4 linked regions of the Homo sapiens genome follow. The protein of the gene in region 3 interacts with the protein of the main gene of each other region in a pairwise test. Each region holds a gene or a part of one and is shown on either strand. Other genes may lie near its edges.

The links.
Region 1: the proteins of MX1 (region 3) and GMEB1 interact in a two-hybrid assay, tested with the Homo sapiens proteins (one study listed by BioGRID).
Region 2: the proteins of MX1 (region 3) and HMGXB4 interact in a two-hybrid assay, tested with the Homo sapiens proteins (one study listed by BioGRID).
Region 4: the proteins of MX1 (region 3) and PSD3 interact in a two-hybrid assay, tested with the Homo sapiens proteins (one study listed by BioGRID).

Annotation. Positions count from the first base shown.
Region 1 is NC_000001.11:28,699,757-28,706,783, reverse strand, and holds part of GMEB1 (glucocorticoid modulatory element-binding protein 1), read right to left. Parts: intron 4,347-7,027; coding exon 4,215-4,346; intron 2,593-4,214; coding exon 2,455-2,592; intron 1-2,454. UniProt on the Homo sapiens protein: Trans-acting factor that binds to glucocorticoid modulatory elements (GME) present in the TAT (tyrosine aminotransferase) promoter and increases sensitivity to low concentrations of glucocorticoids. Also binds to the transferrin receptor promoter.
Region 2 is NC_000022.11:35,260,467-35,267,493, reverse strand, and holds part of HMGXB4 (HMG domain-containing protein 4), read right to left. Parts: exon of another isoform or gene 5,969-7,027; intron 5,172-5,968; 5' UTR 5,104-5,171; coding exon 5,073-5,103; intron 4,417-5,072; coding exon 4,268-4,416; intron 3,699-4,267; coding exon 3,620-3,698; intron 3,513-3,619; exon of another isoform or gene 3,398-3,512; intron 2,847-3,397; coding exon 1,891-2,846; intron 1-1,890. UniProt on the Homo sapiens protein: Negatively regulates Wnt/beta-catenin signaling during development.
Region 3 is NC_000021.9:41,450,219-41,457,245, forward strand, and holds part of MX1 (interferon-induced GTP-binding protein Mx1), read left to right. Parts: intron 1-948; coding exon 949-1,025; intron 1,026-2,402; coding exon 2,403-2,651; intron 2,652-7,027.
Region 4 is NC_000008.11:19,003,703-19,010,729, forward strand, and holds part of PSD3 (PH and SEC7 domain-containing protein 3), read right to left. Parts: intron 3,172-7,027; exon of another isoform or gene 1-3,171. UniProt on the Homo sapiens protein: Guanine nucleotide exchange factor for ARF6.

The sequences.
Region 1 (7,027 bases), on a different chromosome or scaffold from region 3:
CTGAGACAGGAGAATCACTTGAACTTGGGAGGTGGAGGTTGCAGTGAGCCAAGATCACGCCACTGCACTCCAGCCTGGGCAACAGAGTGAGACTCCGTCTCTAAATAAATAAATAAATAAATAAGAATTCACTGAATACACAAGGTCTCATCTCATCATAATCCCATTTTTTTTTTTTTTGAGACGGACTCTCGCTCTGTCACCCAGGCTGGAGCGCAATGGTGTGATCTCCACTCACTGCCACCTCCACCTGCCGGGTTCAAGCGATTCTCCCACCTCAGCCTCCTGAGTAGCTGGGATTACAGGCACCCGCCATCATGCCTCGCGGATTTTTGTATTTTTGTAGAGACAGGGTTTCACCATGCTGGCCAGGCTGGTCTTGACTTCCTGATCTCAGGTGATCCACCTGCCTTAGCCTCCCAAAGTGCTGGGATTACAGGCGTGAGCCACAACGCCTGGCCCATAACCCCATTTCTATTAGATTAGAACGTCATTTTACATTCTGCACAGCAGCACCCTGAAAGTATTCAGAAACAGCTATAAGTGAACACAACAAGTTCAGAAAGCCTTAAATTAATAGGATATGAGAATAATCTTTATTTATTTATTTATTTATTTATTTATTTTTGAGATGGAGTCTCTCGCTCTTCCGCTTGGGCCAGACTGCAGTGGCGCTATCTCGGCTCACTGCATGTTCTGCCTCCCGGGTTCATGCCATTCTCCTGCCTCAGCCTCTCAAGTAGCTGAGACTACAGGCGTCCGCCACCGCGCCCGGCTAATTTTCTGTATTTTTAGTAGAGACGGGGTTTCACCGTGTTAACCAGGATGGTCTCGATCTCCTGACCTCGTGATCCGCCTGCCTTGGCCTCCCAAAGTGCTGGGATTACAGGCGTGAGCCACCGCGCCCGGCCGAATATGAGAATAATCTAAAAACAAGTGGATTTCTCCAATTTTCAGACTCTTTCTCTATACATACACATAGTGGACATACCACATAATGAATGTATACAGAGAGTCTGAAAATAGATGTATCGGCTGGGCGCGGTGGCTCATGCCTATAATCCCAGCACTTTGGGAGGCCGAGGCGGGCGGATCACCCAAGGTCAGGAGTTTGAGACCAGCCTGGCCAACATGGTGAAACCTCATCTCTACTAAAAATACAAAAAATTAGCTGGGTGTGGTGGCATGCGCCTGTAATCCCAGCTACTCAGGAGTCTAAGGCAGGAGAATCGCTTGAACTCAGGAGGTGGAGGTTGCAGTTAGCTGAGATCACGCCACTGCACTCCAGCCTGGGTGACTGAGTGAAACTCCGTCTCAGGAAAAAAAAAAAAAAAAAAAGAAAATACATATATCGCGCGAGAGAGGATGCTTTCTGTCAGTTTTTTTTTTAGATGGAGTCTTGTTCTCTATCACCCAGACTGGTGGGCAGTGGCATAACCTTGGCTCACTGCAAACCTCCACCTCTTGGGTTCAGCAATTCTCGTGCCACAACCTCTCAAGTAGCTGGGATTACAGATGTGCACCATACCCAGCTAATTTTTTTTTTTTCATATTTTTAGTGGAGACAGGTTTTCACCATGTTGGCCAGGCTGGTCTCGAACTCCTGACCTCAAGTAATCCGCCGGTCTCGGCCTCCTAATGTACTGGGATTACAGGCGTGAGCTACCGCACCTGGCCTGTGTTTTTTTTTTTTTTTTTTTTGAGACAAGGTCTTGCTCTGTCACCCAGGCTGGAGTAGAGTCCTATGATCATAGCTCACTGCAGCATCAAACTGCTGGGCTCAAGTGATTCTCCTATGCCTCAGCTTCCCAAGTAGCTGGGACTACAGGCACCCACTACCAACCATACCTGACTAATGTTTAGAAAGTTTTTTGTAGGCTGGGAGCGGTGGCTCATGCCTGTAATCCCAGCACTTTGGGAGGCCGAGGCGGGGGGATCACCTGAGGTCAGGAGTTCATGACCAGCCTGGCCAACATGGCAAAACCCTGTCTCTACTAAAAATACAAAAATTAGCCGGATGTGGTGGTGGGCGCCTGTAATCCCAGCTACTCAGGAGGCTGAGGCAGAGAGAATTGCTTAAAACCCAGGAGGCGGAGGTTGCAGTGAGCTGAGATTGCGCTACTACACTCCAGTCTAGGCGATAGAGCGAGACTCCGTCTCAAAAAAAAAAAAAAATTTTTTTTGTGGAGACAAAGCATCTCACTATGTTGCCCAGACTACTGGCACCATTTATAAAGACAAAAATTACCTGTGGAAAAGCATGGCCAGATCTGAGTTCAAAACCTAGTTATGAACCTTAGACAAGTGACTTAACTTATATGAGCCTTAGTTTCCTTATCTGTAAAATTAAGATAATAATACCTATACATCAGGGTTTTTGCAAGGCTTACAGGACCTGCCTACGGAGGTGAGTATTCAATAAATCACTGCTACTGTTAGGATTAGTGCACTTACCTGTGACTTGGAAGGGAGCCTGGATGAGCCGCTGCTGAACTCCCCTGAGTAGCTCCTCTATTTCCTTCTGTATATTGCAGACAACCTCTTCCATCAGCCCTACATCAGCTATTCCTTTCCAGAACATCAAAGTGTCCTCTGGCACAAGAAGGATAAGACAGAGGGTAAAAAAGAGACACTACCTAGATACTTAGGCAAATCTCTACAACGTTAAATTCAAAATTATTTTAACTCAAAATGATTTCTTATTGGGCCATTCCTGAAAAAAGGGAATAAGCTTTGGAATACTAGATGCTTCCCTGAGTGGGCACCCAATTATGTCGCCCCTTCAGCAGCATAGGTGCTTGGGATGATTGCCTCAATTTGTCATTCTCTCAATTTGTCATAGTTCTCACTACAAAGAATAGTCATTTTCCTCCAATAAAAATATTAAACATTAAACATATTTAACATTACATATTATTTAATTTTAATTTAATTTAAAAACGAGATATTTAATATCATAAAAGTTAAATAGTAAAGAAATGAAATATTAATTAAGATATACTCTCTCTAGTCCTATACTTAAGAAAACAAAACAAAACAGTTGGATAGATGGGGCTATAAGCTCTCTGAGGGTGGTGGCTATGTCTTTTCTTTTTTTATTTTTTTATTTTTATTTTTTTTCTGAGAACAGAGTTTCGTTCTTGTTGCCCAGGCTGGAGTGCAATGGCGTGATATCAGCTCACTGCAACCTCCACCTCCCAGGTTCAAGTGCTTCTCCTGTCTCAGCCTCCGAGTAGCTGGGATTACAGGCATGCACTAGCACACCAGGCTAATTTTGTATTTTTAGTAGAGACGGGGTTTCTCCATGTTGGTCAGGCTGGCCTCGAACTCCCGACCTCAGGTGATCCATCCACCTTGGCCTCCCAAAGTGCTAGGATTACAGGCATGAGCCACCGCACCTGGTCTGTCTTTTCATCTACGCACCCAGCATCTAACAACAGTGCCAACTAAAAATAGGCAATAATAAATACCTATTAAATGAATAAATAATTGGAGGGTGATGTGAAGCCTCTCCTGGTCCCCTCTAAGTGAATCATCATTAATCACCATGCTCTACAACACTTGCCACCTATTTTTTCCTTCTAATATCTCAAAACTTAGTCTATCTAAGAAATGTGCCAAAGTTGGAGGCAGTCTGATCAGAAGAAAAGCATAGACTACATAGTCAAACAGCTAAATTCAGCTCTGACACTTGTTTGTGACTGGTCTTAGGCAAGTTGCTGAACCTTTCTAAATTCTGATTTCTTGTTTTTTGTTTTTTGTTTTTTGAGATGGAGTCTTGCTTAGTCGCCCAGGCTGGAGTGCAGTGGCGCGATCTCGGCTCACTGCAAGCTCCCGAGTAGCTGGGACTACAGGCGCCTGCTACCACGCCCGGCTAATTTTTTTTTTGTATTTTTAGTAGAGACGGGGTTTCACTGTGTTAGCCAGGATGGTCTCGATCTCCTGACCTTGTGATCCACCTGCCTTGGCCTCCCAAAGTGCTGGAATTACAGACGTCAGCCACTGCGCCCGGCCAATTCTGATTTCTTTGTATGTAAAATGTGACTATGCAGGGCTATTGCATGGATTAAAGTAGGATGTTTGTAGCTATAGTTAGTATTTACGTGCATGAGAAAATCCAGCGAAAGTAATTAAGAGGTCTTCCGTGTCCATAATGATAATGGTGATAAGGCTCACAAGACCCTGCAAGACATCTGAGCCCTATAGAAGAATACCTGAAATTTCCTCTGAGTCTTTCTTTACACCCTCCTCCGTGGCCATGGTGACAGCAGCGGTGAGAGCTGAGTTCCATTCCAGCCCTGCCTCTTCCATGCTCTCTTCTGAGATGGCAATCTGCGTGATGCTACCTAAAAACAGTCCAGTAGAGGTGAGAACAGTGAATTTAACGAAAAAGTTATAGCTATCCTATATCTCATACTCAATAGCTACAAAGACCTTGTTATTTTAACATTCTAGCCTCTTGGCTGCAGGTCCCTATTTTAAAAACTAGACTCTTAGGTAAGCTAGGATGAATATTGGATTTTCTAAAGAAAACCTGCCTTGCAAAGGAAAATGCTTTCTTACTTTGAATAGAAAGTGAAAGATAACTTACAAAATCACAAAAGAGCAATGTGTTTCCTAGGTAGGTATGTTTTTGAAAGAGATTGAAGATAGACATTACTACTAGCCTGCCAGCCCCTACTAGCCTGCCAGCCCCAGACTTACTGAGGGTGAAGAAAGCTTGAAATAATTTAAGAGAAAGGTATAGTGCTTTCCCAAGAGCTCTACTACAAGCAAGTCTGATGCTAAGCATCTAACTTATTTATTAGCCTATAAAGAGAAAGTAAAAGAAATGGAGACCATAAAAATCAGATAAGAGATTCATGTATAGCAGATTCACAGAGGGGAAAAATACCCTTTGCTATTACTTGTATAGTAAGATTTTGACTGGGCGTGGTAGCTCATGCCTGTAATCCTAGCACTTTGGGAGGCTAAGGTGGGCAGATTGCTTGAGTCCAGGAGTCTGAGGCCAGCCTGGGCAACATAGCAAAACCCAGTTTCTATAAAAACTAGCTGGGTGTGGTGGTGCACATCTGTAGTTACAGCTACTCAGGAGGCTGAGGTGGGAGAATCACCTGAGCCCAGGGGCTTAAGACTGCAGTAAACCATGGTTGTGCCACTGTACTCCAGCCTGGGTGACAGACTAAGACCCTGTCTCAAAAAACAAGAAAGCTTTTGGCCAGGCGCAGTGGCTCACGCCTGTAATCCCAGCACTTTGGGAGGCCGAGGTGGGCGGATCACGAGATCAGGAGATCGAGACCATCCTGGTTAACACGGTGAAACCCCGTCTCTATAAAAATACAAAAAATTAGCCGGGTGTGCTGGCGGGTGCCTGTAGTCCCAGCTACTCAGGAGGCTGAGGCAGGAGAGTGGCGTGAACCCGGGAGGCGGAGCTTGCAGTGAGCCGAGATCGCGCCACTGGACTCCATCCAGCCTGGGAGACAGAGCGAAATCATCTCAAAAAAAAAAAAAAAAAGACAGCTTTTAAACAAAGAGAATCAAGAAAAACCAAACTGATCCAAACAGCAATATAGGAAAGTACGGACTCTACACACTGGAGGATATCAATCATCGGGCAAAAGATAATCAAGTAAAAGACTTTTAGCCAAATAAAAAGGAAGTACAGTTGTCCCTCAGTATACATGAGGGATTGATTCCTGGACCACCTGCATATATAACCAAATCTGTACATGCTCAAGTCCTAAAGTCAGCCCCGTGGAACCCATATATACAAAAAGTAAAACTCAACACTTCATAGACCCGGGTTTTGCATCCTGCAAATACCATATTTTCCATCCATGTTTGGTTGGGAAAAAAAAAGCTGCATAAAAGTGGACCCCCACCAATCAAACCCATATTGTTCAAGGGCCAACTGTAAATAGCATTTCACAGTATTTTTCACTTTTCAAGTGAAAGAGTCAAGTGTCCAAATATTCAAACCGCCAGATATTTTATACTTTCCTGAAAGGGATTTAGGTTTCAAGGATTCTGGCCTCTATTCACCCACTGGATACACACAGAATATTAGAACTGACCAAAAGATCTTTTTTTTTTTTTTTTGAGACAGAGTCTCACTTTGTTGCCCAGGCTGAAGTACAGTGGCATGATCTCGGCTCACGGCAGTCTCCGCGTCCCAGGTTCAAGCAATTCTCCTGCCTCATCCTTCTGAGTAGCTGGGATTACAGGCATGCACCACCATGCACAGCTAATTTTTTTTTTTTTTTTTTTTTTGAGATGGAGTCTTGCTCTGTCGCCCAGGCTGGAATGCAGTGGCGCGATCTCGGCTAACTGCAAGCTCCACCTCCCGAGTTCACGCCATTCTCCTGCCTCAGCCTCCGGAGTAGCTGGGACTACAGGCGCTCACCACCACGCCCAGCTAATTTTTTTTGTATTTTTAGTAGAGACAGGGTTTCACTATGCTAGCCAGGATGGTCTCCATCTCCTGACCTTGTGATCTGCCAGCCTCGGCCTCCCAAAGTGCTGGGATTACAGGTGTGAGCCACCGCGCCCAGCCATGCCCAGCTAATTTTTATATTTTTAGTAGAGATGGGGTTTCACCACGTTGGTCAGGCTGGTCTCAAACTCCTGACCTCATGATCCGCCTGCCTCAGCCTCCCAAAGTGCTGCGATTATAGGCGTGGGCCGCTGCACCCGGCCAAGATCTTTTTTTTTTTTTTTTTTTTTTTGAGACAGGGTCTCTCGCTCCTGTCACCTAGGTTGGAGTGCAGAGGCACAATCACAGCTCACTGATACGTGATCTTCCCACCTCAGTCTCCTTAGTAGCTGGGACCACAGGCCCACACCGCCATGCTCAGCTAATTTTTTTATTTTTTGTAGAGATGGGTTTTCGACAAGATGCCAAGGCTGGTCTCAAACTCCTGGGCTCAAGAAATCCTCCTGCCTCAGCTTCCCAGAGTGCTGGGATTAGAGGTGTGACCCACCATGCCCAGCCATTAAGAGGTCATTTTTTCAGCACCGTAAGACAAGG
Region 2 (7,027 bases), on a different chromosome or scaffold from region 3:
CTCTGCCTCCATGCGTCCACTTCCACTGAAACCTTCTCCTTCTTCAAGCTTTCCCTGACCCTGTGCTCCGACATTCAGCACTGGATGATTAGTCCATGGCATTATCACGTCACTAGACTGGAAATTCTTAGGATAAACAGAATCTTATAAAGAACACATAGTGTTTATTTCATAAAGCAATTTTCCAAATAAACAACTGAATAAAACCTGACTTAGTATTGGAATATCCAGGTCTTTATGTTCACACTGATTCCTGGCTCAGAGGTACAGCTTTGTGGTTTTTTTGAGATAAACAGATGTGTGTGTGTATATATATATAATATATTATTTTATATATATTATATATACACACACACATACTGATAAACAGATATAGATCTACAGATAGATATAAACAGATAGATATAAGCAGACTTTCTTAAAAGGCACCCTTTATAGTGGAGAAATAACTTCCACCTCAGAGATCAAACTAAATTCCCATTCCTAGATTCTTTTCTTTTTTCTTTTGAGACAGGGAGCCTCACTCTGCTGTCCAGGCTGAAGTTGCAGTGGCAAGATTATAGCTCACTGTAGCCTCCACCTCTTGGGCTTAAGCAATCCTCTCACCTCAATCTCCTGAGTAGCTGGGACTATAGATGTGCACCCCCACACCAGGCAAATTTTTGTATTTTTTTGTAGAGACTGGGTTTCGCTATGTTGCCCAGGCCGGTCCCGAACTCTTGGGCTCAAGGGATCCACCTGCCTCAGCCTCCCAAAGTGCTGGGATTACAGGCATGAGCCACCACACCCAGCCCCAGATTCTTAATACATTTGATTTTCTCGTTCTTAGTCGCTTTTCTTCCAGATTTTATCTGACATTGCATTTTGCAGAACTATAAATAAAAAAAGAAACTTTTAATGACATAGTTATGAGACCCTAAAGTTCACTGCCAGAAACTGTTATGAGGAAAGAAATCAAACCAAGGTGACTGATTTATCATTCCTATCTCCCTAATCAACAGTGAGCTCCCTAAAGTCAACAACTATGTCCTGCTTGTGTTTTTACTTCCTGGTACTATCTACAGCATTGAGCTTGGCATACAGCAAGCACTCAGACAGTAAAAGAACATATATTCGACACTAAAAAGAATACCAGAAAGTAGCCAACACCAGCTGGTGGAAAGTCATTAGCTATTCTGTTAACTTGACTGCTCATTGTTCTACCAATTTTGATAGTCTGTTTTTAAAAATGAACTCAAAGAACACCTTTTGACATCTCCCAACTGCCCTAAGCAGACAGTGATGCTAAGTGAAAGAAATTGGGTTTAGCTCCTTCTGTGAATTCTAAGAACTAGCTGGAAAAAGCCACAGTGTAACTAAACCTATTCCTGGCACAATGGGAGAATAACTCTATTAAGAAACCCTAGGCCGGGCATGGTGGCTCATGCCTGTAATCCTAGCACTTTGGGAGGCTGAGGTGGGTGGATCACTTGAGGTCAGGAGTTTGAGACCAGCCTGGCCAACATGGTGAAACCTCGTCTCTATTAAAAATACAAAAAAAAAAAAAAAAAATTAGTCGGGTGTGGTGGCGGGTGCCTGTAATTTCAGCTACTTGGGAGGGTGAGGCTTGAACCTGGGAGGAGGAGGTTGCAGTGAGCCCAGACTGCACCACTGCACTCCAGCCTGGGCGACAGAGCGAGACTCCATCTCAAAAAAAAAAAAAAAGATTGCTTCTATATCAGACAGACTGGGCTACTGGTAATATTTTATACTTTATATCATTCCAACATATCCCCCAAACATGCTTAATTCCCAGTGGTTTACCTCAACTGCTTAACTTAAAAGTCCACTGACTACCCAGGAAGAACCTGCTTAATCTCTTACCCCCACCACACTTAAAAGATGCTTTACCTTTTCTCCTCTCTCTCTCTCTTTGTCCTTCTCTTCTTTTTTCTTTTTTTTTTCACTATGCCCATCTGTGTGGAGGCCAGGAAGTGGCAGGGGAGGTGCTGCTGCTCCAGCGTATGGGATGCTGGGAGGAGGGCCAGATGTCACTGTGACCTCTCCCACTGGCACGGCAGAAAGTCCTAAACTTCTCTTGGACTTGGAGTGTCGCTTCTCTTTATGCTTCTCCTTGTCTTTCTTCTTTTTGCTCTTCTTTGACTTCTTTTTCTTCTTGATTTCTCGGTAAGAATCATCTATCACTAACTCCCCAGCCTCTAGTTCCCCACCAGAGGATGAGTCTGATTCTACCAGAATAGGTTCAAGCCCTGAAAGATCAAGGTTAGCACTGTGGGACTCTGCGAACTGGGAGGCGTCAGACCCACAGCCTTCAGGGCCAGGAGATGAATGTGCGTCTGAGGATGACTTGTGCTTTTTCCGGGCTGTTTTCAGAAAGCTCTGTAACTCATGTCCTAGGAGTAAAGCACCCTGCTCATCCCGAGCTGATTTCTTTGAGGATTTTTTCACAGTCGCTTGTTGGGAGGGATATTGAAAAGACTCCTCATCAACAGAGCTGCTTCCCTTCTCCTTTGGTGACAGAATAAGTTTCATTTTTAAACCATCAGGCTCCCGAAGGGTCAGTGTCTCTGTGTTCACATAGAGAGGTTTCATTTTTTTCGATTTGTGGGAGCCACCATCCTCTAGGGGTAGTTCCCCACTGCTTCCACTGACTTTCTTCCTGTGGTGCTCCTTTTTACTCTCCGAATGGCTTGAAGAGCCAGAGGATTTCTCCCCAGTCTTTTTGGAGGGCTTGGAGCCTGCTGCCAGTGGGGAAGTGATAGCTTTCAACAGGTCCATAGCTGTATCAGTAGACTGTGGGCTGGACTTTTTCTTTTTCTTCTGTGACGATTCCAAAGACGAAATATCTAGAAATAATCAAGAGAAGTACTGTCAATATGATGGGAAGCAACTTCTAACAAGTTTCCTCTCTCATCAAAAGCACCTAGCTAACATGAGAAAGAGGCTAACAGGAATGATTTGAAGGGAGACCCTTTAACTGATTCCTAACATTGAGAAATGATGCCCTTGTGCTTCTTGGCTTGGTAGAGTCTGCCTCTGACCCTGGACACAGTTCTTGCCACTAAAGTTGTTTCTCTTCATTGAGTCTTCAGAAGCAACCAAAGAGCACATACCCAGAAGAACTGACTATAGCTGTGGGATTATGGGAAGTTAACAATTCAGATTGCAGACAGAGTATCATTTGTTTCTGTGTTCAGGACAAACCCATTCTGGTGAAAGTTGAGTCTCATCAGCTATGTGCATAACATAGCTAAGAAAACTGGTTCTGTGAGTGGATATATACTGGTTGAGAAGTGACCCACAGGTGCAGGCCAGAGGACTACGTATGGCAAAAGGGATGCTAGATAACAATGGGCACAAGATAAGTGGATGATTGGGGGGAGAAGGAACCTGGTACCTGGTGTATCACAAATGCAGACTGTTCTTCTATGCTGAATCCTCCAAAATACCAGCCCTCCACCTCTCTCCTCCTTCACACTGGTTTATCGGCACTCAGAACAAGAACCACTGTCCTGTTAAATAGGCCACTGAGTCAGCAACATCTGGATCCCTTTCCCCTACCCCGACTCCAAGAACCAGCGATGTGTTTATCCCACCTGTTGCCCATTCCCATCCTCACCTCCATAGTAGTAATCATCAGAGGAGTGCTTCCTCTTCTTCTTGTGTGTGTCCGTCCCCAAGAAGTAAAGTTCACTATCCTATAATTAAAGAAGAATTGACCAATAATAAGATGATGAGGCAAATGCAGTTTGTAACCACTCTTGTCTTTGATGATTTTTGATTTTGGGAAACAAAGCACAAGAAATAATAAAAATAGATGTGCATAACGTTTTATTTTTCTTTTCTCAAGTTATTAAAAAATACTTCCTTCTTCAAATATTAGGAAATATGGTAAGAAGTAGTTTAAGACTTTCCTGGCGCAGTGGCCCAGGCCTGTAATCCCAGCACTTTGGGAGGCGGAGGCAGGTGAATCATTTGAGGTCAGGAGTTTGAGACCTGCCTGGCCAACATGGTGAAACCCTGTCTCTGATAAAATACAAAAATTGGCCAGGCGTGGTGGCCCGCGCCTGTAATTCCAGCTACTCGGGAGGCTGAGGCAAGAGAAACGCTTGAACCTGGGAGTCGAAGGTTGCAGTGAGCAGAGATTGTGCCATTGCATTCAAGCCTGGGCCATGAGAGAAAAAAAAAAAAAACAAAAAAAAACTCTGCATCACCAAAAAAAAATGAGTAGTTTAAGACTTTCCTAATTTAAATTTTCAGGACTTACCTTCAACTTCTTCTTGGAAGAATTCCTGACCTGAGCAGCAATTTCTTCCTCTTCCCTTAAAAAATCTTTGTAAGAACGTTTTTTCTCTCGTTGGCTTCGGCCAGCTGCAAGTCCTATGTCCTCAAAGGTATGATCACCATCAAAACAATCTGAGAAGCACAGGTTTATTTGGGAAAGGAAATGAGAAAGTCAAGTAAGTAATGACCAAATCGTCATGCAGGTAATGCAACAGTTCCTCTATTTCCAAATTAAAACAATGTTTCAATCAAGTCCACTGAAATACAGGGCTAGACCCAGGGGAACAGAATATTTCTTGATGACCTAGCTGCAAATACAAGAATCAAACCTGAAGAAACAATGTTTCCATGCTATGCAAAGGCCCCATGTGCAACCTCAGATATGGTTTCTGAGTTGTGATTTGGTAGGAGGACACAGACTTGCAGACGAAAGGCTGAAAAGAATAAGGATTCATGTGCTGTGCTGCTCTCTGTGGGAGTCCAGGATGTGATTCCTATCCCCAGACTCCTGCACACTGGAGCTGGCAAGGACCAAGAGTGCTGCAGGGGATCACCCCAATAAACTAAGAGACTCATATTTCAGACTCTCGTGTTGGAACCCCTGTCCTGGTTTTCGTTTCCATGGGCCCAGTCTGGGGATGGCGTGGAGGCTGAGTGTCATAACAGTGCTCTGGACCATCACTTGGGAGTCCAGGCTGTGGTGCCCAGTCCTGGTCTCTATATCCATGGGCTGCAAGGATTGAAGAGGATACCCCCTTTGGAATGCTTCTCAGATTATGGGGTCATACCTTCTTTCTTCACGGAGTCATCATAAGCCATGGTGGTCCTGCAGGGCCTTTGAGAATGTGTCACTGTGTCCAGGCTCCTTCCCGTCTACAGGACCAGGTCTGAGAAACAAAGAAGGAAAACCCTCCTGTAATGCGAAATCACTGAGGAGAAGCAACCTTCCAGATGGAAATGCGCAGTGATCCAAGGGCTGACTGGAAGGGCAGCAAGAAATAAAAAGTGTCTTGTCACCTCCTCATTCTCTTTGTAAATACAGTGGGGTTGATACTGCAGGAAGTATACTAGGCTTAATTAGATTTCAGTCATGAATTAAAGTTGTCATTTGGGGAAGTATATAAAATACCTCCAATACAAAAAATATTTTCAAAATTAATGAGAATTTCTAAAATGCCAACAGGACTGACAACACTGAGACAGGGTAGAAACCAACATTAAGTTAGAGGGATAGGTTCAATCATGGTTACAACATACACAAGTAAAGCAAGATGCAGAGAAGACAGATCACATCAAACATTTGAAGACCACAAAATCCTACCAACTGGATTGGTGAAGCGGTAAAATCTATTGCATTGTAATTTAAACAGAAATGATTAACTGTATAGGGATGTTAAATATCTTTAGAGCACAATGTCTTTTGCATTTTTTGGGGGGGGCGACATGAATTTGTTCAAATTTATGTAACTGTAAAAGCAGGTACACTCCTTACATCAGTTGACCATATGACAGCTGTCACCACCACCAAGGCTTTCTTAAAGGCTAGGTGAAAATAGGGAGACATTTATCATTTGTCCACTGGTCATAAAACTTTTATGATTATTAAGACCTTCACTAATAAGAATTGCTATAATTTAAATGTTCTAGATATTGTATTTTTTATTGAATTTTTACAACCTTTTTTGGCATTTGAGTTTATATGTCCATTTTGACTTTGAAGATGACAATGCTATAAAATGCACTGTAAGGTAAAAGGATTTTTTTTTTTTTTTTTGAGATAGAGTCTTGCTCTGTTGCCCAGGCTGGAGTGCAGTGGCACGATATTGGTTCACTGCAACCTCCGCCTCCCGGGTTCAAGCGATTCTCCTGCCTCAGCCTCCCGAGTAGCTGAGATTACAGGCGCCTGCCACCGAGCCTGGCTAATTTTTGTATTTTTAGTAGAGATGGGTTTTCACTATCTTGGCCAGGCTGGTCTTGAACTCTTGACCTCGTGATCCACCCACCTCGGCCTCCCAAAGTGCTGGGATTACAGGCGTGAGCCACCGCGCCCAGCCAAGGTAAAGTTCTTTAAATGTTTTAAGAACAAGCAATTTCATAAGTCCTTCAGGAATTTTAAAATTACATATTAAATATTTTGGAAATGTTCTCATCCAATTAAGTCAGATGCTTACAAAGTTAATCTAATTGATCATTTATTTAAATTTAATTTTACCTTCATTATTATAAGGGTATTTAGAAATACTGAAGGACACTTAAATGACACATTACTAATTCCTTCAGGTAGCTGTGGACAATACTGAAGCATGGAACTTTTGTGAAAGAAAAGATGAATTTGATTAACAAGGGAGACTTTCATAAGAGTTACATTAAAAAGACTTATTTGCACAATCAGATAAAATACAATGTACATACAGGTAGGCCTAAATGGGAAAATGAAGCATTACCAAGAATGATTTATTAGATTAAGAAAAGAAACATAAAAAAGCATTTCTTCACTTCTCTGAGAAGTGAAATAAAGAATGGATTTGGTCAAAGTAAGAGAAGCTAGAGTAATGAAACTATATTAACTGGATTGTTTTAAAGTTCAATTGGAGAACTGCCTGTTCGAAGGGCCTTTTCATAGGAAACGAAGGGGACATAAGGTCAGGCCTCAGATAAAAATGTGAGGAGGCAAGATACATAATGTAGCCAGTTTTCCATGTTCCAGCATTTAAGGATGACACTTTCTCAGCGGAAACTACTG
Region 3 (7,027 bases):
CTTTTGGAGTGCTGTAGGAATCTAGGTGTGTCACGGATAGGTAGGAAACTAGATCCTACTGTGGATCCACTCCCTTCTTGAAATGCTTTGCTTTCTTGGTTTTCCAGGTATTAAATCTCTATTCTTCATCCTCTCCTTGACTGACAGTATCCTTACTCACACTTCAGCTGCCTCATCTTAGCAGTAATTAATAATCACTCATGGATCCATGAACTAAGGAGCTGGAGATAGCCTCAGAACAGCTCATTCAGAGGTGTATTTCCAGTAAAATTGACCTTTTAGCCCTGATAATCATATACCAAAACCTGCAATCATGTTGTTTTGGTCCATTGTAGACTCTTAACTCATTCCAGAGGAAAGTTTATAATACTTAGAGCCTTATAGTCATAAAAATCAACATAGATATACCTATTTCTTTTTCAGAAATGTATGACATGGAGATCAATAAGAGGTTTTCAATCATAAAGATACTATACCTTGTATTACAATAAAATTCTGTGAGGAAGTAGAATAGAAATGAGTTTCAAAAATAAAAGATAAATAATATAAATTTTTTAATCTAAGAGCTTGTTCTTGTATTTTTTTCAAATGGATAATGTAGACACTCAAATTCCATTGATATATTTAAGAGTGATTTGACTTATATTAAGAGTTGTATTATAAAATATTAATATTTATAATTTAAAAGAAATTACATTCTTTGCAGCTATTTAGGATAAAAAGTTTAAATATCAAATAAATGTATGCCAGGGGTCATTTGCTTTTAAGATTCTTCCAGCAAATTATTAAGCAAAAAGAGCATGCCTTGCTTTTTCATGGTAAAGAGAAGAAGGGAGCGGGGAGAGGGGAAACTTTACTTCATACCATTTGATCCTCATATTTTTTTGCATCTTAAGAAGAGAACAAATGATCCTACCAATATTGAACTATTTTTCTCTCTTTGATTAGATATGGTCCGGCTTGCTTTCACAGATGTTTCGATAAAAAATTTTGAAGAGTTTTTTAACCTCCACAGAACCGCCAAGGTAAAACCAACCATGTGTTGTTTAAAAAAAAAAAAGAAAAGAAATTAAGCTTGACACTAGAAAATAGATTTCTTGGATGAGGATTATTTCAACTTTATTGTATACTTTTAGAACAGCAAATAACATCACTCACTAGTGCTTCTTCTGATGTTACCGGTGATGTCTGGTTAAAAGCAATAAAGGAGGGAGTGCTTAAACGCACAGAACAAGAGATCCACAGTTAGCGGAGAAGATTATCACATCTAAGGGCAATGGCTCCAAATCCAGAAACTCACTGAGGAAACTACATATAAAAATAGAATATTTCTGGCCCGAGTGGGCATGATGAGCCTGTAATCCCAGCACTTTGGGAGGCTGAGGCCGGTAGATGACTTAAAGCCAGGAGTTTGAGACCAGCCTGGCCCACATGGCAAAACCCCATCTCTACTAAAAATACAAAAAAGTAGCTGGACGTGGTGGTGCATGCCTGTAATCCCAGCTACTTGGGAGGCTGACACTTTAGAATTGATTGAGCCCAGGAGGTGGAAGTTGCAGTGAGCCAACATTGCATCACTGCACTCTAGCCTAGGCGATGGAGCGAGACCCCGTCTCAAAAAAAAAAAAAAAAACAAACAAAAAAACTTTCCATCCAGAGTGAGGAAAGAGCCTACAGGAAATGAGCCTGGGGGACAGACTGGGCCAAGAGACCAGACTTAGCCACTCTTAGAAATAGGTGTCCCCGGCACAGATGAGGAGCCTGGCCCCATGATTCACCAGCTGGAGGCCTTGGGATGTGCCACTTCCAGCCTGTGCCCCTGACTCCTCATTCATAAAAGAAGACTGATAAGGCCTTCCTCAGAAGGTTGAGATGGACGTGGAGTAAGATGTTTAGGATGCACCTGCCACTGTGCACTGTGCCTCTCCTCAAGGCCTGGAGGGTCCAGGGGTGAAGTTTCTCCTCCTCAGGTTTTGGCAACCAGTTTCTCTAAACCCCGGGAACATAAAACATAATTTTCTGACTTAAACATGGCTTTCCTGCTCATCCCTGTGGATTATCTGATGGATATGACAATCCTCGCCATCAGATATAGAAGCCCCTAAAAGAGAAAGGAAAGAAGCTGAGTTACGGGGCCTGAAAGCAAGCCTGTGCAGGTCCCCAGGCCCCGGGATGGGGGTCCGGCCCATCTGTGGCTCAAGCCTCCTGGGAAGCTCTGACCCTCAGCCAGGGCTAGAAACCTGCCTTAGATACACCAGGGCGCGGCCCAGAGGGCTGTTCCAGGAAACGTGCTGTTTCACTCACGTTGGGTAACCTGGTATTTACGGACTTCTTACCTACTTTCCTGTGACTCAGGAATTTGTGTCTTGAGGGAAACTGTATTTATTTATTTTTTACTGTAGTCCAAAATTGAAGACATTAGAGCAGAACAAGAGAGAGAAGGTGAGAAGCTGATCCGCCTCCACTTCCAGATGGAACAGATTGTCTACTGCCAGGACCAGGTATACAGGGGTGCATTGCAGAAGGTCAGAGAGAAGGAGCTGGAAGAAGAAAAGAAGAAGAAATCCTGGGATTTTGGGGCTTTCCAGTCCAGCTCGGCAACAGACTCTTCCATGGAGGAGATCTTTCAGCACCTGATGGCCTATCACCAGGTACGTCTTCGCGTGGTTCAGGATGCCAGCTTCCATTCTTTCCTTTTCTTCTGAACGCCTCTCTCTTTAGTCTTGCTCTCTCTGTAGGTGACGTTGGTCAGCTCTGTCGTTTACCTCCTTGTTAGCCTCCTGTATTAGTCCATTTTCATGCTGCTGATAAAGACATACCTGAGACTGGGCAATTTACAAAAGAAAGAGGTTTAACGGACTTACAGTTCCACATGGCTGGGGAGGCCTTCTACCATCACGGCAGAAGGCAATGGGCACTTCTTACCTGGCGGCGGTGGCAAGAGAGAGAATGAGAGCCAAGTGAAAGGGGTTTCCCCTTATCAAACCATCAGATCTCATGAGAGTTACTCACTACCATGAGAACAGTATTGGAGAAACTGCCCCCATGATTCAGTTATCTCCCCCTGAGTCCCTCCCACAACAGGTGGGAATTATGGGAGTACAATTCAAGATGAGATTTGGGTGGGGACACAGAGCCAAACCATATCGCCTTCGTAGAAGCAGCTCAACCTCAGACAGAGAGATGGTGGCTTAGAGCCAGTGACATCTGGTTTTGATGGCTGTCTAGCTCTGGCCAAGTTACTTAACCTCTCTGAGCCTCAGCTTTCTTTGTAAAATGGTGTCTCCTCATAGATTCTAGTGCATATTCCAGGAGACGAGTGTGGATGATGATAATGGATTGCTAATGGAAAAACCAAACTCTGTTAAAATATTTGAAAGAGGTTTATTCTGAGCCAAATATGAGGGACCATGGCTCTGGGAACAGTCTCAGGAGGTCCTGAGGAAGTGTGCCTGAGGCTGTCAGGATGCAGTTTGATTTTATACATTTCAGAGAGGCAGGAATTGTAGGTAAAATCATAAATCAATACATGGGAGGTGTACTTGCCCTCCCTAAAGAGGCAGGACACCTTGAAGGAGGGGGAGCTTACCGGTCATAGGTGGGTTCAGAGATTTTCTGGTTGACGATTGCTTGAAAGAGTTAAACTTTGTCTACAAACTTGACATCAATAGAAAGAAATGCCTGAGTTAAGGCAGTGTTAGAGGCCAAAGGTATGTAGATGAAGACTCTGGGTAGCAGCCTTCAGAGAGAATAAATGGTAAATGTTTCTTTTCAGGCCTTAGAGGCAGCAGGCTCTCAGTTAATCTCTCCTAGATTCAGGGAAGGCCTAGAAGGGGAGAGGTCTGACTGCATTAATGGAGATTCTCTACAGGTGCAAATTCCCCCCCCACAAAACATGGCAGGGCCATTTCAATCTGTTGGTCCTGTTACAGCCGTTTCAAAATATGTCCACAAAATATATTTTTAGGTAAAATATTTGTATTTCCTTTAGGGTCTGCAATCTGTCTTGTGATGCTATACCAGAGTCGGGTTGGAAAGTAAGCCATTTTATACTGAGTTCATGGAAACTCATCCAAGGAGATTTCATGGTTTGTGGGGTGTGTGTGACTTAACCCCTGCCTCACATGACTTTATAATATGGTATCTTACTACTCCAGAGTCTTTTTGGCCAACCTTATGATCTCAATTTCAACCTAAACTCCAAAAGGGCCTGGCTTCTCTTCCTGTTACGGCCAGGAATTCAGATTTTCAGGTTTCTCTGGGGTCCACTTGGCCAAGAGGGGGTCTGTTGAGTTGGCTGGAAGGCATAGGATTTTATTTCTGGTTTACAACAATTTCCTTAGTGCAGCATTGGAATGCAATGGTAGCAGACTAAATGGAAGCTATCGCGTAGACACATGCTTTGGTTGATACTGCACGATTCAGTTAACCTGAAGTACAATCTAATTCATCCTAGGGAAGGAGGCAGTGAACACAGACACAACTCAGGTAGAGCCCTTGGGATGTGTAAACACCTGAGGAGGTAAAGCAAATTGTAATCTCTCGGTTTATCAGATGTCCCCATTGCCTTACTATTTGGATGCTTTAAAGCAGGGCCTCTCAAACTCCACCCAGCACAGAGGCCTCCTGGGATCTTGTGGAAATGCAGATGCTGATTGCAGGTCAGGATGAAGCTGAGATTCTGCCTTTCTTTTTTTTTTTTTTTTGAAACCGAGTCTCACTCCATTACCCAGGCTGGAGTGCAGTGGCACAATCTCAGCTCACTGCAACCTCTACATCCTGGGTTCAAGCAATTCACCTGCCTCAGCCTCCCAAGTAGCTGGGATTACAGGCTTACCTTGCCACCATGCCTAGCTATTTTTTCTATTTTTAGTAGAGATGGACTTTTACCATGTTGGCCAGGCTGGTCTTGAACTCCTGACCTCAAGTGATCTGCCTGCCTCGGCCTCCCAAAGTGCTGGGATTACAGGCGTGAGCCACCATGCCTGGCCTCTGCATTTCTAACGGGCTCTCAGGGGTCACCATACTACTGGATAGAGGCCACACTTGGAGGAGCAAGGCTCTAAACCGAGGGTCAACATCCATTCCTCCAGACACTGGGAGCTGCATGCACGTGAGTGAAGCCAGTTAAGGGGAAGACAGGCATGCACATCAGCTTCTCCTGCAGCCAAGCTCACACCTGTCCGCTGCTTCCACTGCCTCCTAGAATGAACAGTTACCTTGAGAGTAGGTGAGGCATATACATGCACAGAATCCAAACAATAGGATGAGTGACAATGGCAGAGGAGTCTCCGAGCCAAGCAGCTCCCTGGACAGAAGCAGCCCTTCTCCGGGTTCATTTCTGTCCTCCGAGGCTGACTCATGCACTCAAAAGCTCCCATGCATATACATTTTATAATGGTTTTTACACAAAGGTTAGCAGAGGAGTGGACGTGCTGCTCTGTACCCTGCCTCTTTTGCTGTACCTGGGAGATTGTTCTGCCTCAGTTCTGATGGGGCTGCCTTGTTCTTTTCAATGGCTGCTGAGTATCCCATTTTATGGATGTGGTATATTGAGCCAGCTCCCTTTAAGCGAACAGTTTGTTTGCAGTCTTTTGCTAATGCAGGTGTGTTGCTGTGAATAGGTTTGTTTGTATATCATGTATCTGGAAGCATCAATTCCTAGAAATGAGATTCCTGGTATATTAGGATTGTGCAGGGAAACAGAACCACAGATATATGTATGTAAAGAAGTATATTTCAGCCAGGCATGGTGGCTCATGCCTGTAATCCCGGCACTCTGGAAGGCTGAGGTGGGTGGATCTCTTGAGGCCAGGAGTTTGAGACCAGCCTGGCCAACATGGCGAAACCCGGTCTCTACTAAAAATACAAAAAAATTAGCTGTGCATGGTGGCCCATGCCTATAGTCCCAGCTACTTGGGAAGCTGAGATATGAGAATTGCTCGAACCTGGGAGGCAGAGGTTGCAGTGAGCCAAGATCACACCACTGCACTCCAGCCTGGGTGACAGAGCGAGACTCCATCTCAAAACAAACAAACAAACAAAAAACAAAACAAAACAAAAAACAGAAGGAAAGAAAGAAATATATGTATATTTCAAGGAATTGGCTTCTGCCATTTTGGGAGCTGGCAAGTCCAAAATCCCAGGGCAGGCCAGCAGGAAGAGCAGGCCAGAAATTGCAGCAGGAGCTAAGGCTGAGTCCACAGGCGGAATTTCTTCTTTTTAGGGAAACCTCATTTTTCTTCTTAAGACCCTCAACTGATTGGATGAGGCCCATCCACATCATTGAGAATGGTCTCCTTCACTTAAAGTCAGTGGGTTACACATGTTACCCACATCTACAGAATACCTCCGCAGCAATACCTAGATTCGTGTTTGATGGAATCACTGGGGACTCGAGCCTAGCCAAGCTAACACATGAAACACACCATCACAGCTGGGGAAAGGATGGCTTATTTTAGACTGATAAAGATGACCCAGAGAAGGCCTGCTCCATCCACACTGGCCGCTTTAGTCTGCACTAAAGTTGTTGGTTTTTTTTGTTTGTTTGGTTTTTTTTTGGTGACAGAGTCTCACTCTGTCGCCCAGGCTGGAGTGCAGTGGCGCAGTCTCAGCTCACTGCAACCTCTGCATCCTGAGATCAAGCGATTCTCCTGCCTCAGCCTCCTGAGTAGCTGGGACTACAGGCACGTGCCACCACACTCGGCTAATTTTTGTTTTTTCAGTAGAGACGGGGTTTCACCATATTGGCCAGGCTGGTCTTGAACGCCTGACCATGTGATCCATCCGCCTCAGTCTACCAAAGTGCTGGGTTTACAGGCGTGAGCCACCACGCCCGGCCTTGTTGGGGTTTTTTGACAGCCTAATAGGTGAAAATGACATCTCATTACAATCTTAATTGGCATTCTCTTATGACAACAAGCTGGTACATCTTTTTGTGTGTTGAGGGTTATTTCTATTTCTTGCTCAGCAAACAGTTCATCCAGGAAGAGCTTCTTGGTGAGATAGTAGACCTCTGCGATTTCTG
Region 4 (7,027 bases), on a different chromosome or scaffold from region 3:
CCTGGCTTAAATTTTTATGACACATCTCTACCACACTGGCAGGGGGTGGGGGGTTGGGGACTTGGGTTGTCTTGGATCAAGACCCAGTGCTGAGGTAAGCAATGTAGCCAGACTGGCTTGATCAGCTCCTTGTAATCTCCCTGGCGAGGGATGTTTGTCAACTGGAGACCACACCCACTAAAGAGAACTAATTAGGTTCTAGGGGCAACCACTAAGGTCATCATTATTACCAGGTGAGATCAGTTTCCCAAACATTCCGATCTTAAGACTTGCATGGGGTGATTAGGAAGACTGCTCCTTCAGAACCACTGTACCAGAATCTTCAGGCAGCCCTAGAAATCTGAAACCAGGTAATTCTTGACAGACAAGTTTGGGAAACACTATTTAGATCATGACATTACAGTATCTAAAAAGATCAAGAAGGGTCTTCTAGGTAGGGTGTCCTCCTTTCAAGCAATTCTCTGTCTAATCCAGGAGGAGAAGACTATTTTCTATACATAAAAGTCTCCAGAGAACTGGCTTCCAAAATTTCCTTTCAGTATACATAAGAGTCTCAAGTCTGCAGAGCTTTGTGGTCCCTCTCAAATAGCTCAGGCAAAGGTTAAATCTCCATCCTTCTTCCAACCAGATATTTAAAAAACAATATTTGTTACACAAGTCATCATACTGAAAGTTTTGTTAACTCACTTTGGAAAATACGTGAGGGCCTAGAACTGTGCTAAGCCCTCTGGTGCTCTGTTTAAGATAAAGAACTTCACTTATTTCAAAGGTCAGGAAGAAGAAACAGAAAAGACAACCCACAGAATGAGAGAAGCTATTTGCAAAGCATATATCTGATAGGAGACTTCAACCCAGAATATAAAAACAATGCTTAAAATGTAAGAGTAAATAGACAAATAATATAATTTAAAAACGGTCAAAGGATCTGAATAGACACTTCTCCAAAGAAAATATACAGATGGCCAATGATATGGTTTGGCTTTGTCCCCACCCAAAACTCATCTTGAATCGGAACTCCCACAATTCCCATGTGTCGTGTGAGGAAGCCGGTGGAAGGTAATTGAATTACCGGGGTGAGTCTTTCCAATGCTGTTCTCTTGATTGTAATAAGTCTCAAGAGATCTGATGGCTTTAAAAATGGGAGTTTGCCCACACAAGCTGTCTCTTTGCCTGCTGCCATACATGTAAGACATGACTTGATCCTTCTTGCCTTCCACCATGATTGTGAGGCCTCCCCAGCCATGTGGAACTGTAATTCCATTAAACCTCTTTCTTTTGCAAATTGCCCAGTCTCAGGAACGTCTTTATCAGCAGTGTGAAAATGGACGAATACGAGCCAATAAGCACGTGAAAATATATTCATCATCATTAGTCATTAGAGAAACGAAAAGCAAAACCACAATGAGATACCACCTCACACCCACTAGAATGGCTACAAAACTTGTATGCTTGTGTTCAGAATGGCATTATTCCTAACTGTCAAAAGTGGAAACAACCCATCAACTGATGAACGGATAAATAAAATGTGACCCATCTAGTCAATGGCATACTATTCAGCAATAACAAGGAATGAAGTACTAACACATGCTACTTCATGGATGAGCACTGAAAACATGAGGAAAAAGCCAGCTACAAAAGGCCACATTTTGTATTGTTTCATTTACATGATATGTGCAGAACAGCAAAATCCAGACTCAGAAAATAGATTAGTGGTTGCCTGTGATGAGGGATAGGAGCAATGGGGAGAGGTGGCAACTCATGGGTCTGGAATTTTTGGGGTTTTTTTGTTTTCTTTTGAGACAGGGTCTCATTCTGTCACTCAGACTAGAGCACAGCGATGCAATCACGACACACTGCATGCAGCCTCAACCTCCTGGGCTCAAGCAATCCTCCTGCCTCAGCCTCCTGAGTGGCTGCGATTACAGGCACACATCACCATGCTCAGCTAATTTTTAAATTTTTTTGCTATTAAAGGGGTCTCACTCTATGTTGCCCAGACTGGTCTCAAACTCCTGAGCTCAAGAGATCCTCCTACCTTGGCTTCCCAAAGTGCTGAGATTACAGGTGTGAGCCACTGTGCCTGGCCTGGGCTGTTTTTGAAGTGATGAATATGCTCTAAAATTGACTATGGTGATGGGTGCACAACTCCATGAACATACTAAAAATCAATGAGTGTACACTTTAAATGGGTGAATCGTATAGTATGTGAATATCTCAATAAAGTTGTTTAAAAAAAGGATCCCATTTAATCTCCATGAGCCTCAATTTCACCCTCTGAAAATGGAGACACCACCTACCTTTCAATACTATAAAGGATATATAGGCCAGGTGCGGTGGCTCCCAGCACTCTGGGAGGCCGAGGCAGGCGAATCATGACGTCAAGAGATTCAGATCATCCTGGGCCAAAATGGTGAAACCCGTCTCTATTAAAAATACAAAAATTAGCTGGGTGTGGTGGCACGTGCCTGTAATCTCAGCTACTCGGGAGGTGGAGGGAGGAGAATCACTTGAACCCGGGAGGCGGGGGTTGCAGTGAGCCGAGATCACGCCATTGCACCCCCGGCCTGGGTGACAAGAGCGAAACTCCATCTCAAAAAAAAAAAAAAAAAAAGAATATATAAATACATACAGATGCATGCATGTACACACTCACACATACTATGTTTCACATAGTACCTAGCCCATAATAAATACTAAATAGATGTCATTCTTTCTCCTCTTCCTATCCCCACGCTTTTGTATTGTTATGCCTTGATACTGTGGTTCCACCACAAATTACAAAACTCAAAATTAAAATGTATTTCAACAGAGGTCTAACCATGAGAATTTCACACTGCTATCCTCAAGACTACTCCTACATGGCTAACTCTGAAGAAATCCTGGAGCCTGCGAATGTGACTGTCTACCTTCCAGACTTGTCACTACAGAGTATTTGGGGATAAAGAGTAAGACCTTTTTCCTCTGTTCCACTGCCTTATTAGAATGTTCCTTATTTCTAACCACTGGACACGGGCACCTTCACTTACCTATCTTTAAAACTCAGCACAATCCTTGCCAATACAGATGCTATTCAGACATTTTTCCTGTCAATTTCATCTACAATGAAAATCAACTGGGCCTCCAAGACAGCTCTGCAGGTGTCCCCAAAACACCTTAGCTTTGATATATAGCACTGCCCACCTGATTATTCACTGTGATACTAGGCAGATTCAAAGAGGGCTAGAAATTAGGGAACCACCTACAGCTTGCAACAAAAAGTCAACTGCAGCCAGCTGGGCCCAGTGGCTCACACCTGTAATCCCAGCAATTTGGGAGGCTGAGGGGGACAGATCACCTGAGGTCAGGAGTTTGAGACCAGCCTGGCTAACATGGCGAAACCCCGTATCTACTAAAAATACGAAACAGCCAGGCATGATTGGTGCACACCTGCAGTCCCAGCTCCTCTGGAGGCTGAGGCAGGAGAATCGCTTGAGCCCGAGGCAGAGGTTGCAGTGAGCCGAGATCTTGCCACTGCACTCCAGCCTTGGCGACAGAGTGAGACCCTGTCTCAAAAAAAATAAATAGAGAGAGAGTGAGAAATGACAGCCCAGGACAGATAATGCCATCTATTAAAAAAGCACTTTTGCTGTAAAGTTGCCCTAATATAGTAGTTACTAGCGGCCTGAAGCTATTTAAATTATCGAAATTAAATAAAATTTAAAATTCAGTTCTTAAATCTCACTAGCCACATTTCACATGCTTAGCAGCCACATGTAGCTACTGACTATCTTATTGGACAGGGCAAATATGGGACATTTCCATCATAGTAAAAGCTCTATTGAACAATGCTGATTCAGGCAGTAACTGCATCGATTCTATAAAGTTCACAAGTTCTGAGTTCTTAGGTACTGTAGTTTCAGTATTTGCTGATTGTGAAGTTTGACTCGCACTAGTACGATCCAAGTGAGGTTTGCCTAGGTCAGTGGACAAGGTTTTTTGGAGTGTACACTGAGCTCAGCACGAGGTAAGCACTTAATATTTGCTGAATGCTTAAATCAACAGCATAATAATATCTGTACTTCAGACTCTGCCTTGATACTTTCAGATATTAGCTCATGGAAAGCAATGGTTAATTTTTCTTCAAGGGAGATTTTTTATTTTTATTTTTATTTTTATTTTTGAGAGGGAGTCTCGCTCTGTTGCCTGGCTGGAGTGCAATGGCACAATCTCTGCTCACTGCAACCTCCGCCTCCTGGGTTCAAGTGATTCTCCTGCCTCAGCTTCCCAAGTAGCTGGGATTACAGGCACCTGCCACCATGCCCAGCTAATTTTTGTATTTTTAGTAAAAACAAGGCTTCACCATGACAGCCAGGCTGGTCTCAACTCCGCTGACCTCAGGCGATCCACCCGCCTCGGGCTCCCAAAGTGCTGGGATTACAGGCGTGAGCCATGGCGCCCGGCCAAGGGAGATTTTTATAGGGAGATATAAGCATCAGCGGGTGGGGAAGGTGGCTGACAGACCTTTTGTAGCCACTAGAAATGAATCGGCGAAACATAAAAATCTGCCCAAAAGTAACTTTGCTATTCAAACAAAGTTTCAGATGCAAGAAATATCTTGCCTCTTCAAACACTCACTACTTGCACCTTGTAGGGACATGAAGGCAGAGTCAGAGGAGACACTCTGGAAGATCACAAAGCCTGCTGTCAATTTCCAAGCATTTTTCCAATATAACTTCGCCAGAAAATAACACAGTCACGAAGACAGCAGCCATCTAATGGCATCGTCTGTGCCATCACTCTTATACCTAAATTTCCACTCTCCTAGTGTCCTATGACTCAATCAAAACTGTGCCTATCAAATAACTTCTTGAAAGTACAAGTTTTTGAAAATCTACATTCAAAAAAGCATGTAAGTTTCCATATACAGAGAAAAGCAGTTCCACTGGCCCTTAACCAGTAATCTCCTAGAGGCCAAACAAAAGAAGCTACAGCTGCTTCTATTAAAATTTTCTACTTCTCTTGTCCACAGACCAAACAGGCATAAGAAAACCAAGCTGCTCGATTTCTATAATTCACTTTTTCTTAGCAAAGGTCTGAGAACAGAAGGCCAGGGAAACAGGGAGCAGCTGCCGCCTGGTCTTATGAATGCCCTCGGCTCATTCCCCATCCTCCTCCTCATTGTTTCAAGCTCCTTTTCTTAACAATCTCTAAGCCCCAGCTCATGGGAAGAAATAACAAGGAAAAGCAGCCTTCACTGTGTCAACACCCTCTGTGGTTGAAGCATCTAGATCACTTCTCTGAGGTGATGCAATTAGAAATTAAATTAGAAATTAAAAAGAAATTAAAATACATTCCATTTTAATTTGTTAATCTGCTTTATTGTGAATTCCAATTAATGACACATAACTACGTGGAACTCCTTACATGTGGTCCTACAGAGATCCTTTTAGACACCCCAGGGGTTTTGTTGTTGTTGTTTAATTACACCATTTCTATCTCTTGAGCCAAACAACAAATCTGGTCCCACTATTAAGCCAACAAATGTATAATGGTCGGTGATGAATTAGTCATCCAATATTCAGATTCCAAGACTCGAATAATCTAAATATTAGAGCCAAAGAGCTCAGTTTCTGCAACACGCAATGCTAACTTTGAGACATAAAAACAGAATGGTGGTTAAGAAAATTGGATGACCTGAGTTTAAAGTCTCAGCTCTGCCACTTACTCACTGTGGGATCTTGAGCAGGTTCCTTAACCTCTCCTGACTTCAGAATGGAAATAATGACACTACTGACCTCATGGGTTGTCATGGGGAATAAGGGAGACAACCCAAGTAAGAACTCAATAAACATTAGCTGTGATTGTAAAAACGCCCCATGCCAGGAAAATATCACTCGAAATAAGCGTTTTCCAAAAGTTAGGACTTGGCCGGGCCTGGTGGCTCATGCCTGTAATTCCAGCACTTTGGGAGGCCAAGGAAGGCAGATCACCTGAGCTCAGGAGTTTGAGACCAGCCTGGGCAACACGATGAAACCCCGTCTATACTAAAAATACAAAAATTAAGCTGGGCGCAGTGGCGTGTACCTGTGGTCCCAGCCACTCGGGAGGCTGAGACAGGAGAATTGCTTGAGTCTGAGAGGCAGGGGTTGCAGTGAGCTGAGATCGCACCATTGCACTCCAGCCTGGGTGACAGAGTGAGATCTTGTGTCAACAACAACAACAGAAAAATCAGGACTTAACAAGAAACTTAGAAAATGCTGCTTTCTCAGAAGACCCGTGTGAAAATACCATGTAAGAAAAGAACACCAGCTTAGGTCAAAATGTTAATTTTCCCAGTTATCCTAAATCCCTAACTCCAATAATAATCTTTTAAAAATATCCTTCAACATGTATAAATTATTCTGATTCATCTCACTGATGTACACTCAGAGGAAAGGGAATTTCAAACCAGATGGCTCAGGAGTGAGTGGTCCTCAAGTAAGCCTCAAGGAGTGAGTGGTCTGCCATGGCCGCAGCCTGACATGCAGGAAGGGGAGAAGAGCGGGCGGATCCCTCACACCACCGGTGTCACCAAGAGAGAAAATGCTCTGCCACCTCTGTGCCCTGATGTGTCAACAAAGTCCCTCCCCACTAGGCACCAACTGGGCCCAAGTTTGTTGACCTTCTGGGCGCAGTGAAAAACCTTTCTTTTGGTAGAGCAAACAAGCACTGCAGGGACATGCACTGTTTTTATATAAATAAGATAGCACACGCAAAGATTCATTATTAATGTTGAGTTATGCCTTATTTTCAAATGAGGCATGGACATTTGGTAATTTGGATTTAAGAATAACTTGTTAACTATATGCTGCAAATTATCCTTTTTCTCCATTGTAAATTGCAACAGCCACTACAACACTACTTAATTTGGAGCTTGTGAAAAATGTCCTTGAAAGATGGTCAACGTAACTCAGAAACACTCTTTGAAAAAATAATGCCACCACTTAAATTCTTTCCAGCAAATCCCTGAGTCTGCATACAATATCACAAACAACACAAGCTGTCAAGA